Linked DNA regions of Homo sapiens: region 2 is linked to region 1. The links come from fine-mapping of genetic effects on gene expression. Tissue or cell type: whole blood. Region 1 holds a variant in brackets; the other region holds the start of a gene. All regions are shown on one strand. Distances are between the middles of the regions.

Evidence for each region. PIP is the estimated chance that this variant, and not a neighbour inherited with it, causes the effect.
Region 2: it holds the start of ALDH9A1, and the variant in region 1 is fine-mapped to the expression of ALDH9A1 in whole blood (TOPMed, PIP above 0.99).

What each region holds. Positions count from the first base shown.
Region 1 is chr1:165,604,013-165,611,840 of GRCh38, reverse strand. No RefSeq gene overlaps it. Among named protein-coding and RNA genes, the nearest start is that of MGST3, 23 kb to the left of the region's middle. The variant T/G (reference allele first, on the strand shown) is at 3,257.
Region 2 is chr1:165,694,127-165,701,954 of GRCh38, reverse strand. ALDH9A1 (aldehyde dehydrogenase 9 family member A1) reads left to right here and starts at 3,393. Exons shown (of 11, transcript NM_000696.4): 1 at 3,393-3,577; 2 at 6,558-6,703. The coding sequence starts at 3,397. It also overlaps the pseudogene CA14P1. RefSeq lists enhancers at 2,958-3,137, 3,002-3,584, 3,428-3,657 and a silencer at 3,208-3,397.

The DNA of each region.
Region 1 (7,828 bases):
TGTCCTTTGTGCTTACAGCTCATTCTCCCCTTTCTTCTCCTTTCCATTTCTCTACATTTTTCAACTATGTTTTTACTTTTACATTATCAAGGTTGATAACATCTGTTCTCTGTTCTAAGAACACAGTTAACACTCCAAAGATTTGTTCAGTTATGAGGGTCAGAAGAAGGTGATGCTGTCATAGGGCCAGAGGTAGCACCCACACCGCCTTCAAGGGGCTTACAGTTTAGGAGAGGAGAAAGACATGTAAACAAATAACAGGCTGGGTGCCATGGCTCATGCCTGTAGTCCCAGCACTTTGGGAGGCTGAGGCGGGAGGATTGTTTGAGCCCAGGGGTTCGAGACCAGCCTGAGTAACATGGTGAAACCCCCTCTCTACAAAAAAAATAAAATAATAATGATAATAAAAAATAAAAAAAATTAGTTGGGTGGTGTGACGGGCATAGTCCCAGTTACCCGGGAGGGAGGCTGAGGCAGGAGAATCATCTGAGCCCAGAAGGTCGAGGATGCAATGAGCCAAGATTGGACCACTGCACTCTAGCCTGGGCAACAGAGCAAGACCCTGTCTCAAAAACAAAAAACAAGCAAACCAAGAAAACCACATACACAAAACAAATAAGGGCAATACAAGTATTAAATGTTCTATAAAGATGCTTTTAGAGTGCAGTGGGACTCCAAGCACTCTAGCAGCTCCCTCCTAATCTATGCATCTCCAACTCTCTCTCTAAAATTTTCATCCTTCAGGTGGTGAAAGTGCAAAGGTTGCAAAACCAGTTTTCAGGAACCTTGTTTCCAGGCTCTGCTTCAAATTACGGTGGTGGTTGGCACTTAGAATTTGTCATCTGAACAAAACAAAACAAAAACCAACCAAACAAAAAACTAGTAATGTTTATTGTCTCTGGAGAGGAAACTGAGTGGTGCAAAGACAGGAGTGAAAGAGGAAGCTTCCCACTTTTGTATGTCTTGAATTCTAAGCCTCTATTACCTCCCATAAATATAAATTTAAAAATATAGCCAAGAATTACCAAAAACATTTTCTGACATGTCAGTTTGAGGACTTCAGAACGACAGCACCAAGGGAGAGCTGAATTAAAAAAGAGTCTGGGTGCCTTGCAGGACTCCCGAGGAAAACACGCATCTTCCGGTACAAACACGTCCTGAGGTGAAAAGCCAGCTAGATGAAAGGAGCTCACACTATTTTCACGTGTATATTGAAGGTCCACGGGACGCCCCTTCTAAGAACAGACTTTAAAATTTGAAACTCTTCTCACCCAGCGACAGTATCTAGTTTTCATAACTAACATTTTTTACACCAGAGGTTGCAATGTAGACAAGCTGGGAAAGGTACAACTGGCTGTGTTTCAAGAAGAGCGGTCTGCAGTGTGGCAGGTCCACCCTGCTCTGAAGGCAATCCAGGCTGTTTCTTGCTCCAGGTCCCAACTTCGCAGTCATATATGTAATCAAGACTAATGAAGCTCAATTCGTGAAATCAGTGAGGGCTATGTTTTCCAAATGGAGGGCGGGCATTGTATCACAGTAAGAAATTGATTTCACGTTGCAAGCCAGTATATACATTCATAAAAACTCACACATTCATATATACATTGGAAATAATACTTCCTTTAAATAATAATTACTTAAAATAATAATACTTCCATTTTTCCAAAAAATAATACTTTCTTTAATCACATGAGATGGACTCAATTTTCTTTATTTTTTACTGTTATTATATATATATATATATATTTTTTTTCCTTTTCTTTTTTTTTTTTTTTGAGACAGGGTCTCATGCCATCACCCAGGCTGGAATGCAGTGGTGTGATCTTGGTTCACTGTAACCTCGACCTCCCAGGATCAAGGAATCCTCCCACCTCAGCTTCCCAAATAGCTGGGACTACAGAAAGGCACCATCACGCCTTGCTAATTTTGATATGGGGTCTCAAACTTCTGGGTGCCAGGGATCTGCCTCTCTCGGCCTCCCAAAGTGCTGGGATTACAGGCATAAACCTGGCCATATTTTTATATTTTTATGTTTATTTTTATTTTTTGAGACAGGATCTCAATCTTGTCCAGGTTGGAGTGCAATGGTGCAAACACGGCTCACTGCAGCCTTGACCTCTTGGGCTCAAGCAATCCTCCCACCTCAGCCTCCCTAGTAGCTGGAACTACAGGCGTGATTATTTTTTATTTTTTGAGACAGGGTCTTGCTCTGTTGCCCAGACTGGAGTGCAGTGGTGCATTCTTGGCTCACTGCAGACTCGACCTCCTTGGACTCAGGTGATCCTCCCACCTCAGCCTCCTGAGTAGGTGGGACTACAGGTGTGCACCACCACACCCAGCTAATTTTGTTTTATTTACTTTTTTATAGAGAGGAGGTCTCATTATGTTGCCCAGGGTGGTCTCAAACTCCTGGGCTCAAGCGATCCTCCCAACTCAGCGTCCTGAAGTGCTGGCTTGGGCCACAATGCCTGCCTGGCTCTCAATTTTCTCTTCAGTTCTTTCTGACTTGATTTTTTTTCAGCTTTATGAACTGGAAGGGTCGGATTGACAATTTAAAATTGCATATATTTAGGCTGTATGATGTGATGTTGTATGTATGTATGTATTGTGAAATGACTCCCACAATCAAGCCGATTAACATATCCCTCTCCTCACACAGTTACCATTTCTTTTTTGTGGTGAGGACACTTGAGATATACTCACCTAGCACAGTTCAAGTATGCAATACATTGTTATTAACTATAGTCACTACGCTATTCATTGAGTCTCCAGTACTTATTCATCGTATTTGATTTTATTTTTTGAAACAGGATCTCACTCTGTCACACAGGCAGGCGTGCAACCTCTCACTACAACCTCTCCTTCCTGGGCTCAACCAATCTTCCAGCCTCAGCCTCTCGAGTAGCTAGGAGTATAGGCATAAACCACTAGGCCTGGATAATTTTTATATTTTTTGTAGAGATGGGGTTTTGCTATGTTGCCCAGGCTGGTCTTGAACTCCTGAACTCAAAGCGATCTGTCCACCTCAGCCTCCTAAGCTGCCTATTTGATATTTTTTAATGCTGATAACAACCCACCAAATTTATTTTAGACCCATAGTTTGGAAAATCCTGAGCTAGACTACAAACATGTATACTGAGTCATGATATAAGAGGCATATTTTACAATGATCACTTTAAATTAAATTTGAAAAACAAATTACTAGGCCATATTATAAACGTTGAAATTTGCTTGTGTTGTCATTGTTAAAATCTCT[T/G]CTGTCAAGATCTCTTCTGGCTGGGCATAGTGGCTCATGCCTGTAATCTCAGCACTTTGGGAGGCCTAGATGGGTGGATCACCTGAAGGTCAGGAGTTCGAGACCAGCCTGGCCAACATGATGAAGCCCCATCTCTACTAAAAATATAAATTAGCTGGGTGTGGTGGCGGGTGCCTGTAATCCCAGCTACTCTACTAAAAATATAAAAAATTAGTCTGGGATGGTGGCAGGTGCCTGTAATCCCAGCTACTTGGGAGGCTGAGGCAAGAGAATCACTTGAACCCGGGAGGCAGAGGTTGCAGTGAGTTAAGATCGTGCCATTGGACTCCAGCCTGGGCAACAAGAGCAAAACTCCTTCTAAAAAAAAAAAAAAAAAATCCCTTCTATTTTTTTTGGGGGGGATTTGCATTCAAGGGACTCAGTTTTAGAAATATTACAAAATAAAAACCCAGACTCTTCCAGTCCTTTAGTAATTCTTGTAATGCACTAGGCTTCTTTGCTTTTTAAAAATGCTTTATCACTCCAGGGTGCATCCCTAAACACTATAGTTAAGTTTTATCAGTTTAAAAAATGATGTCTTTTAAATCTCTTTTAATCTATAATTCGCCATATTCTTCTTTCACCTTGCACTTTATTTGTTGAATAAACTAAATTGCTTCATTAATAGATTCCTACAGTATGAATTTTGTTAATTACATTGTATGGTGTAGTTTAGCATGTTCCCTCTCACTTGTATTTTCTGTAAATTAGTAGTTGGATTTAGAGATTTGATTAGATAGGTTTGATTTTTTTTGGCAAGACTACTTTGGAGATGATACTGTGTTGTGTCCTTTTACCAAATAGCACATAATGTCATGTATGTGTGTGTGATGTGTGTGTGTGGGTATGTGTGTGTGTGTGTGTGTGTATGTTAGCAGCCATTGATGCTAATTGCCTAGTTCTATTAACATATTAAGGGTTTCAAATGATATTTGAATTCAATCACTGTTTCTTAATTTATTAGCTTTAATGTCTATTAAAAGACCCCTCCCCTGACTATTTGGCTACCTAATAATTCAGTTCATATACGAAAGGCAGAACAAGTGTCTGATTCTTTCCCTTTATTTAAAAGTTCTCAAAATAGTTAAGTTGCTTCCTAATCATACTCCACAGGTGATCAAATAGAGTTTTTTAAAAAGGTAACATTTTAAACCCATGGATTCAAACATAATTTGGTGCATTTCAAATGATTTCAGTTTTTATTCTTCTTGATGCTTGTGCTCCAATTATTCTGTCTTTGCTAATAAGTGACTCCTGAATTCCTTTAACATGGCCCTAATTGTGGGTGAAGGATTACCCAGGTGCCGAGGCAGGAGACCAAAGGCACAAGCTGTAGCAGTATAATAAAGAAAATAGTTGGAATAAAAAAATACAAATTAGATATAGAGATGATCGTGGACAATTATCAATCATTGGTATAAATGTTATTAATCATTAGCTTTTAATATTACTCTTTGTTGCATTACTAATATAACCTAGGAATAACCGGCAGGTATAGGGTCAGGTACTGAAGGGACATTGTGAGAAGTGACCTAGAAGGCAAGAGGTGAGCCCTCTGTCACGCCCGCATAAGGGCTGCTTGAGGGCTCCTTGGTCAAGCGGTAATGCCAGTGCCTGGGAAGGCGCCCGTTACTTAGCAGACCGCGAAAGGGAATCTCCCTTTCCTTGGAGGAGTCAGGGAACACTCTGCTCCACCAGCTTCTTGTGGGAGGCTGGATATTATCCAGGCCTGCCCACAGTCATCCGGAGGACTAAACCCCTCCCTGTGGTGCTGTGCTTCAATGGTCACGCTTCTTGTCCGCTTTCATGTTCCTCCCATACTCCTGGTTCCTCTTTGAAGTTCATAGTAGATAGCGGTAGAAGAAATAGTGAAAGTCTTAAAGTCTTTGATCTTTCTTATAAGTGCATGGAAGAAAACGCTGACATATACTGCCTTCCCTCTTTGCTTCGGCTACCTAAAAGGGAAGGGCCACTACCGGTCTCTGTGTCTTGGTGGTAGTGGTCCCCCGGGCCCAGCTGTTTTCTCTTTATCTCTTTGTCTTGTGTCTTTATTTCTTACAATCTCTCATCTTTGCACACGGGGAGAACACCTGCTAAGCCCTGTAGGGCTGGACCCTACACCTAATGATCATGTGTAGCTTCCTTCCTTCCTTTCTATTATAAGATGTTCCAGACTCATCTTGTACATTTCCTGCCCTAGATCTAGAATCAGCCATGATTTCTTTTAATGGAAAATAGATTTCAGATTCACAATATTGGCTCTAGAGATATTCATTGATACTAGGTTGATCATTATTTCTTGGCTTTTCAGTGGACAGAGCAAGGGAATTTTTAAAAGATAAAATACCTTACAAGTTAATATTGATACTTCTCTATTTCAAATTCAGCAACACAAGGTTTTAACTTAACTTCTTCTAATACTTTATCATTGTTCTTCCTTATTGATAATTGCCTTAACTTGCCATGATCAGTGGTCCTTTAGGGCTATAGATAGTTGGGTGAGGGTAGGACTGACTGATCCTGATGGAGCGAAGACACTGGAGGTACTCTTTGGGAAAAGCTCAGTTCCAATAGGGTAAGATATTATGGTTAGTAAGTTAGGCCTGAGCTTCTTCAAGTTATCACTGTACTAGAATTTAGACCATGTTAGTAAACTAAACCTAGGACAGGGTCAATAGTTGGGGTTCAAGAACAGGTATAGGGCTGCAACCAGTAAGCAACCAGTAACCAACAAGAACCAGGAAGGCACAGTCTGCCAGAGAGTCCAGGACAGTGGTTGGCAGAGGCTGAACAGGCAGAATGGAACATGGAAATCAATGAAATTCCCAAGGAGGCATAGCATCTTTAAACAACTTACCTAAAGAGTGAAGGTAGGGAGGGGTTTGGAGTCTTGCCAAGAAGTCATGGCTGCTGGTGGTGGTGGGCAGAGTTCAGGAACTTAAATCAAGACCTACTAGAGAAAACCAAATGGCTCACACAAATGTATGGTTGATCTAGGAGATGCTGGGGGTACCCACCCACATCTCAGCTGCAACCATTACCATGGATTACAATTTCCAGCTGTCAGCAGCTGCTATTCTTTGCCTGAGGGCACTCTCTGACTGCTGAAACCACTCTACCTGGGCATGCTGTAGATAGTGAATAACCTGAGGCTCCTCCACACCCCGCAGCTGCCTCCCAGATTGTATTTTCCAACCGGGTTTGGGTTCCTCTCTCTCCTTGTGCCACAGGCCCACGTATTTTCCAACCGGGTTTGGGTTCCTATCTCTCCTTGTGCCACAGGCCCACATGGACACTATATTCTAGTCAGTAGGATGTAGTTCCTCCAGCGGGTCATTCTGTTTCACATCTTTGTACCTTTGTACATGCTGTTCCCTCTGCTTCAATTCTCTTCTCCCATGCCAATCTTCTCCAACAATTCCTCTCATTCTTTAAAAATGTCTAAATGACCATCTCTTTGAAGCTTTCTTTCCTAGTTTCAGGGGTCTTTTTCTTATGTTCTTATAGCCCTAGGACATAATAAATATCCATTGAGTATTTGAATTAAGTATGGGCAACAGCAAGTAAGGATCCCAGGCACCAAAGCTCACACAGTTTCAATTCTGAGTGTCCTTCTGCCTCCATCAGCAAATTTCTTCCAGGAAGGATCCAATCTTAATAAGTTCCAAGCCAGCAAGTAGACACAGGGAAGCAGATACAATCTGGTTGGAGGCAATAGGAAAGGGCAGAAATATGAGACATGTCTTAATAACTCTCCCTATATTAGTTTTCTGGAATTACATAGCAAAGTACACCAGCTGGGTGGCTTAAACAACAGAAATTAATTTTCTCATAATTCTGGAGGCTGAAGTCTGAGATTAAGGTGTTGGCAGGGTTGGTTTCTTTGAAGACCGCTTTTTTTTTGGCTTGTAGATGGCCATTCTCTTCTGGTATCTTTACATGATCTACCTTTGGTATATCTGTGTCCTAATCTCTTCTCCTTAAAAGACACCAGTCATATTGGATTAGGGCCCATCCATATGACCTCATTTTACCTTAACTATCTTTTAAAGGCCCTCATTCCAAATACAATCACATTCTGAGGTTAGGACTTCAGCACATGAATTTTGTGGAGACACAATTCATTCCATAATACTCCCCCAATATAGAGAACCCATGTTCCTAACATTAAGTCCTGAAAAAACAACAGAGGTATCAATCCTGAGAGAGAGTTTCCAGGCTCTGGAGTCCTTAACTTGAGTCATGGGCTTTGTTTTTTAAACCTGTCTCTCTGTTTAAGGCCAGTACTAGAGGGCTAATAGGTTAAAGTCACAAAATGATTCTATTCCTTCATAGCTGTTATGATATCCCATAGCTAGTCTAGAGACCAAACTCCATCTAGGAAGTTCCTAGGACTGAGGGATGTTGTTGAGGTTGATTATTGGGAGATGAAGAAAATAACTGCAGTGAATTTCCAAAGATTATGCAGTGTCTCTTCCAGATTCGGAGTGACCAGGCACAGGCATCAGGGTTTGCAGAAAGAGCTGACTCAAG
Region 2 (7,828 bases), 90 kb before region 1:
GCAATCCACCCACCTCCGCCTCCCAAAGTGCTGGGATTACAGGTGTGAGCCACCGCATCCGGCATTTGCTTTTACTCTGGAGGTTGTGTCCAAGAAGAGTACTGCTAATGGTGAAACTAAGCCAAAGCAACAAATTGACAACTGGATGACCTGAGGGAGAGGCCAGTGAAGGACCCTGGATCACACAGTATGGGTTCCCAAGGACTTCTTCCTTTAGGAGACCTGGAGGTGGCAGAAGGGGATCCAGTTGCTTTTCTTTTCCTCCTCTGGTTGTCTGGGGAAGGAAATGTGGAAAAGGAGGGGGCTTTAGTGGCACCCAAGTTTGGCTTTAAGCAAGTTGTGAGGCAGGCAGTTTCTCCTTGGATCTTCTACCCCTTTAGCAATGATTCCACTCCTTTTCTATCTCTTTTTACCCCCAAATCTGCCCTCCAACACACACCCATCTAAGAGGTGTTTCTCTTTTGGCATTCCTTCTGCTCCTTGTGGCATCTTTGTCCCTTTGAATTTCACCCTGAACTTGTAAACTGGCCAGCATCCTCTGTGACTTCTGGGCTGCTTACTGGGTAGTGCTGACAAATATCCTAAGAAGTTTACATGTCCTTTAAATCTCCCTAGAACCAGATTTCTGGGTTTCTGATAAATATCCACCAACATAAGAGTGAATTTTGATAGCAACCTTCATGGGGTCAACATCTCGACCTGGTGTAGTAAGAAGAAATTTACTTTGGACTTGCACAGAGCTGGACTCCAGCCTTAGCTCCTTTATGGGGAAGCTCTACGACCTTTCTATTAGTTTCCTCATCTGTACAATGGGGATGATAAAACCTATCTTGCATGATTGTCACTGAGATATTTGACAAAGTGCCACATACTACCTCCTAGCTCAATCTCTGTTAGTTTCCTTTTCTTTTGTAGGGTTATTATGAGCTTCATGTGAGAAAGTAAATGTGAAAGGGCTCTGTAACCTATAAAGCTCTTTCTACATGTTGGATTTTGCTAATGAAAAATAATACATTAATAATCTAATAATAAGGGTGGAAGGAGGGAGAGGATCAGGAAAAATAACTCATGGGTACTAGGCTTAATACCTGGGTAATGAAATAATCTATACAACACACCCCCATGACACAAGTTTACCTATGTAACAAATCTTTACATGTACCCCTGAACCTAAAAGTTAAAAATAATAATTTAATAATAAAAGCACAGATAGGTAAGAGGAACAGCTAGATATTTAAAAGGTAGATATTTTGGAGGAGATCTGTTTTCTTTGGGGAAGGGTCTTACTCTGTTGCCCAGGCTGGAGCAGTGGTGCCATGATCGCTCACTCCAGTCTTGAACTCCTGGCCTCAAGCAATCCTCCACCTCAGTCTCTTGAGTAGTCAGGACTACACGCTTGTGCCACCATGCTCGGCTAATTTTTAAAAATATTTTGTAGAGACAGAGTCTCACTATGTTGCCCAGGCTGGTCTTGAACTCCTGGCCTCAAGCGATCCTCCTGCCACGGTCTCCCAAAGTGTTGAGATTACAGGTGTGAGTCCTGTGCCTGGCCAGAGGTTTGTCAGTCTTATCATCTATGAATTAATTCAATAGACATCACGACCACATTTCCAAAACAAACATCAGGAATTATGATGTGACAAGTCAAAATGCATTGGTTGGGGACAGAATCTTTTAAATAGAAATTGTCCCATAAAATTTGAGACGTATAGTTTCTGTACCTAAATGACCATTCAGTGATCTTGGAAATCTATAGTGCTGCTCGTCACCAACTCCTGATATGTTTCAATTCTGTTTGCAATGGACAATAATAAAATAATATGTGAGTGTGGCCTCAGGTATTCTGAGTTTGGGCACTGCTGTTTCCATCTGAGGACCAAGACCTACACATCTCAGTAGCACTGAAAAAGTGAACAAACTGGTATAGAGTGCCAGAAAACTTGATCAGAATACATTATATATACTCTAAACCTGAAAACCACACTCCCTAATATTGCGCTGGTGAGCTGGCAGGTAAAGGAAAAAACATTGAGAAAGACAGCAGCCCCCAGAAGAGAAACAATCCTAAAAGAAATGTCCAAATTGCCAATTACTTTCTGTTTGTCAAAGTCTCTACTGGAGGTGCATGGAAGTTTGGTGAGAAGAATGAACCTTTGTGCAAGATCCCTCAGCTGACAGACCTGTGAGTGCCTCTGGGTGGCTGCTTTGTCTTACAGAAGGCATTTTGTTTCCTGACACTTTTTCCTGTGGCCTTTGCTCTTCGTATTCTGTATGTTAGGCTTCTGTTTCTATCAATATTTGTCATTAATAGCATTTACATTGCTCCTTCAGAATTTATTTATTTTGAGACAGGGTCTCGCTCTGTTGCCCAGGCCTGAGTGCAGTGGCACGATTATAGCTCACTGCAAGCTTGGACCCCCGGGGCTCAGGGGATCCTCCCACCTTAGCCGCCCAAGTACCTGGGGCCACAGGCGTGTGCCACCACACCTGGATAATTTTTTTTTTTTCTGAGTTTCACTCTTGTCACCCAGACTGGAGTGCAATGGCATAGTCTCGGCTCACTGCAACCCGTCTCCCGGGTTCAAGCGATTTTCCCACCTCAGCCTCCCAAGTAGCTGGGATTACAGGCGCCCGCCACCACACCCAGCTAATTTTTGTATTTTTAGTAGAGACGGGGTTTTACCATTTTGGTCAGGCTGGTCTCGAACTCCTGACCTCAGGTGATCTGCCCGCCTTGGCCTCCCAAAGTGCTAGGATTACAGGCGTGAGCCACCGCGCCCGGCCCAATTTTTATTATTTTTATTTTATTTTTTTATAGACACGGGATCTCTCTCTGTTGCCCGCAAACTCCTGGGCTCAAGCGATCCTCCAGCCTTGGTGAGAGCCACAGCGCCCAGTCTCTCTTTAAGAATTTAAAAAGCAGTTTCAGATCACAATATCATCTATCTCGTTCACAGTCCCCTTGCTTTTTACTGTCACCCTTTAAAAAGCATTATACAATTACAGAAACGGTGGTTTAGCAGTGAAGTAACCACCAAAGACTCTTGGCACTCCAATCCTCTGCCTTCTTCAGGCGATAGGATTAAGAATGGGATCCTAGGATGCTTACATGCAATGATGAACCCGAAAACACTTGCAAAGTGCTACGCAAATATTGATCACGAAGAAGGAAGTCCTCTTCCCGCCTGGAGACTGTGTGGGGTATGGCGGGGTGGTGGGGAGAATGTGGTGTCTTGCTCCACCCTCCTGGCGAGGGGAGGGCCTGGCCTGGACCGCAGAGGAATCGAGTGACTGCCCCTAAAATCTCCTAGAACCGATCCCGCGGCCCCGCCCCTCCCGCGGCCCCGCCCCTCCCGCGGCCCGTCAGCCTCTGCCGCGGAGCTGCGTCCGCCACTCATGTTTCTCCGAGCAGGCCTGGCCGCGCTCTCCCCGCTTCTTCGCAGTCTTCGGCCCTCTCCTGTCGCCGCCATGAGCACTGGCACCTTCGTCGTGTCGCAGCCGCTCAATTACCGCGGCGGGGCCCGCGTGGAGCCGGCGGACGCCTCCGGTACCGAGAAAGCTTTCGAGCCAGCAACCGGTAACTGCAACGAGCCGGGGAGGCTGGGGCGCCCTGGGGCCGGATGCGCGGATTTCCCGGCCAGCCCCCGTTTCCTGTGTTCTGCAGCGTTGACTTGAGCACAAGACAGTGACAGTGGAGAGTCTAAGGTTGTGTGTGTAGGCAACTAGCGATTCTGGGGCAACGCGAGTGCCTCCGGGCAGGGATGGGTAGGGAGGAAAAGCAAAGCTGATGAGTTGCGTGGTAGGATCGTGAGTTGTTTTACCCGGGCCAGAACAGAGTTCGCAAAGTACTGGTGGGGGAAGTCGTGCCTCTGTTAACTTCCTTTTTTGTTTGTTTTGTTTGTTTGTTTGTTTTTTGTTTGTTTTGAGACAGGGTCTCACTCTGTCGCCCAGGCTGGAGTGCAGGGGCACCATCTCAGAGCTCACTGCGCCCTCTACCTTACGGGCTCAAGTGCTTCTCCCGCCTCAGCCTCCCTGGTAGCTGGGATTACAGGCTCCCACCACCATGTCCGGCTAATTTTTGTATTTTTAGTAGAGACGGGTTTTCAGCATGTTACTCAGGCTGGTCTCGAACTCCTGAGCTTAGGTGATCCTCCCGCCTCAGCCTCCCAAAGTGCTGGGATTACAGCCGTGAGCCACCAAGCCCAGCCAACTGTTCCCCCTTTTAAAACCAGGACTGATGTATTATTGTCTTCAAATGTGTGCATAGGAGAGGAATTCTAAAAGAACGGGGCGGGGTTGTGGGGAAGATAATCATTTGTGCTGGGAATGAAGGAACGCTCACAGATAGTTTCTAATGACTACGAATGAGGACTTTGTCTCCACATTCTAATATTAAAATATTTCTGCACATTAATCAGAATTGGGAAAGGAAAAAACCCCACCTTTATTCAGTACTTTCTTCCCCAGCTTTATTGAAGTATAATTAACAAATAAAAATTGTATATACTTAAGGTGTAAAACGTGTTGTAATGTATGTATACCTTGCAAAATGGTTACCACGGTCAATCTAATTATCCATTGCTTCTGCATAGTTAATGGCTTTTTTTGGATAGTGAAATATTTAAGATCTATTCTTTTAGCAAATTTCAAGTATATGATGCAGTATTGGTAACCATAGTCACCATGGTCTACGTGAGCTCTCCACAATTTATTCATCTTGCTGAAATAAAACTTTTTAATCCAGTGCTTAATGTGTGCTAAGCACTGTGCTAGGCACTGGATTTACTCTGGGAACTCTGAAGGTCACAGAGATAAGGAAGAAGGGGCTTTTTGTTTTGGTTTTGTGTTGTGTTTATTTTGCTGGGTTTTATGGAATATATGTGGGGAGAAAAATGTAAATATTTTGTGTAAAATGTAGCCAGAGCAATAAAACTGATTTGCAGGGGACTGGAGAATTTAGTATTTGACCATCCACACTAAACCACAGAGCAGTGACTTGGCAGAGCCAGAAGGCATTATCACATCTCTTCTTTATATAGGAGGAAACAGCTTCTCTACCCCGACTTAATCCTGATACAAAAGAAAGAAAAATTGCTCTTTGCTTTAATTGCCTACAGTGTGTGTGATCCTCAGCCACCGCCTTTACCAGCTGGCTATTCAAGTTTGTAACAGAAATTGCAGATTTGTGAAATCTCCCTGGAAAGAGTCCCAGGAGTTCTTGTGAAGAGGATTTGCTGAGTTGGCAAACTTAAAGAATTCTTGTTGGTAGAGGCAGTACAGTCCTTGGGCTATGGGCCTAGAAAAACTGATTGTTTCATAATTTGCACCAGAATAGGGAGAGGGAATAAAGGTGGAATAAGAAAAGGAAATCTGGGAATTTTTGAGAAAAAAAAAATGTTCCTTTAGGGTTGCCTTATCCTGATATTACTGCTTATTAACTATATTTATCAAGTATCAAGTAGTATGATATAACCTACATAGAATATAGACAAGGGATTTACAGTCAGAGTTTATAACCCAATAGACTGATTACTTTTGACTTTCATTTTACAAGACCCCTGAGATTCTGAGATAATGTTTAGGAGTGTTGCAAAACTTAATCAGAAGTTAATGTTAGTAAACTCAACTGTAAAATAGTAGAGGGCAGGGGTTCTTAACTCTAAATCCTTGATGAGTTTAGGGCAGGGGACATGACATTCCTGTAATTCTGTTATATGTTTAAGTAGATTTTTCTGGAGAGAGGTCTGCAACTTTTATCAGACTCCTAATGTCAATGACCGCAAAATACAGTTAAGAACTGCTAGGCCGGGTGTGGTGGCTCATGGCTGTAATCCCAGCACTTGGGGAGGCAGAGGTGGGTGAATCACTTGAGGTCAGGAATGTAAGACCAGCCTGGCCAACATGATGAAATCCCGTCTCTACTAAAAATACAAAAATTAGCTGTGTGTGGTGGCAGGCGCCTGTAATCCCAGCTACTCGGGAGGCTGAGGCAGGAGAATTGCTGGAACCCAGGAGGCAAAAGTTGCAGTGAGTCAAGATCGTGCCATTGCACTCCAGCCTGGGTAACAAGAGCGAGACTCCGTCTTAAAAAACAAAAAAACAAAACAAAAAAACCTGCTAGTATAGAGATGGTCACTAAATCAAACCATACATAAAAACAAGAAGTTACGGTAGCCCACGCCTGTAATTCCGGCACTTCGGGAGGCTGAGGCGGGTGGGTCACAAGGTCAGGAGATCAAGACCATCCTGGTCAACATGGTGAAACCCGGTCTCTACTAAAAAATACAAAAAATTAGCTGGGCGTAGTGGCGTGCACTGGTAGTCCCAGCTACTCAGGAGGCTGAGGCAGGGGAATCGCTTGAACTCAGGAGGCAGAGGTTGCAGTGAGCCGAGATCGCGCCACTGCACTCCAGCCTGGGTGACAGAGCAAGACTCCATCTCAAGAAAAAAAAAAAAAAAAAAAAAAAGACTACTACTAAGAGAATATTGATAGATAATATTTTATTTAAATATGTGGCAACAATTTGAGTTAAAACTGATGTTTCCGCTCTTTATAGGCCGAGTGATAGCTACTTTCACATGTTCAGGAGAAAAGGAAGTAAATTTGGCTGTTCAAAATGCAAAGGCTGCTTTTAAAATATGGAGTCAAAAATCTGGCATGGAGCGTTGCCGAATCCTTTTGGAGGCTGCCAGGATAATAAGGGTATGTTCCAATTTATTTCCTTCCAGAACTCAGACATTGCTCTGAGGTTTCTTTGTGATGTTTGCAGTTCGACTTTGTTGCAACATTAGGCCGTAACGTTTTTATAAAATGGAAAAACATTTCCACATGCTCACCTTAGTATATAAAACAAGTTTTTGTTCAATACTTCCCATCTGGATGTTGGCTCTTGGACATCTCCTTTGGCAGGTTTTCATGTTTGTAAAGCTTTGTTTTGAATTATAATGCACTCTTTATAGCTCATCGTCCTTTTTTTATTTTTATTTTTTTTTTTTTTTGAGACGGAATCTTGCTCTGTCGCCCAGGCTGGAGTGCAGTGGAGTGATCTCGGCTCACTGCAACCTTCGCCTCCCGGGCTCAAGCAATTCTCCTGCCTCAGCTTCCCAAGTAGCTGGGACTACAGGTGTGTGCCACCATGCCTGGCTAATTTTTGTATTTTTCGTAGAGATGGATTTCACCATGTTGGCCAGGCTGGTCTTGAACTCCTGACCTCAAGTGATCCACCCACATCGGCCTCACAAAATGCTGGGATTACAGGCGTGAGCCACTGTGCCCAGCCTTTCTTTCTTTTTAAACCATGTGGTTTACTTGTTTCCTTTTTATTCTTTATTTTGATGATTCTCAAGTCTACCTTTCTTTTTCAGATTTGTTTTCAGATAGGGTTTTAAGTATCGTTACTTTAATTGGGAAGATTTCATAGATTTGTAGATGTTCCCTTTAAAAAAAAGAGAGTTAAACTTTTTTTTTACATCATAAATATATACAATTTTTATTTGTCAACTAAAAAAAATTGTAAAAACAAGTATTTAATACTCATCGCAAAACATAAAAAGCCTGCAATGCAAAGGGTTTCTGTGGTGTAGTAGTTACCACGCTGGCCTAACACACGGAAGGTCCTCTGTTTGAAACTTGACGGAAACAAAAGGTTTCTTTTGTTTCCCAGAATCTGACCAGGCTGCCTCTTCCTGGGAGTCCAGAGCTGCGAGGAACAAGTGATAATCCTGCCTCCTTTTTTTTTTTTTTTTATACTTAAGTTCTAGGGTACATGTACACAATGTGCAGGTTTGATACATAGGTATACAAGTGCCATGTTGGTTTGCTGCACCC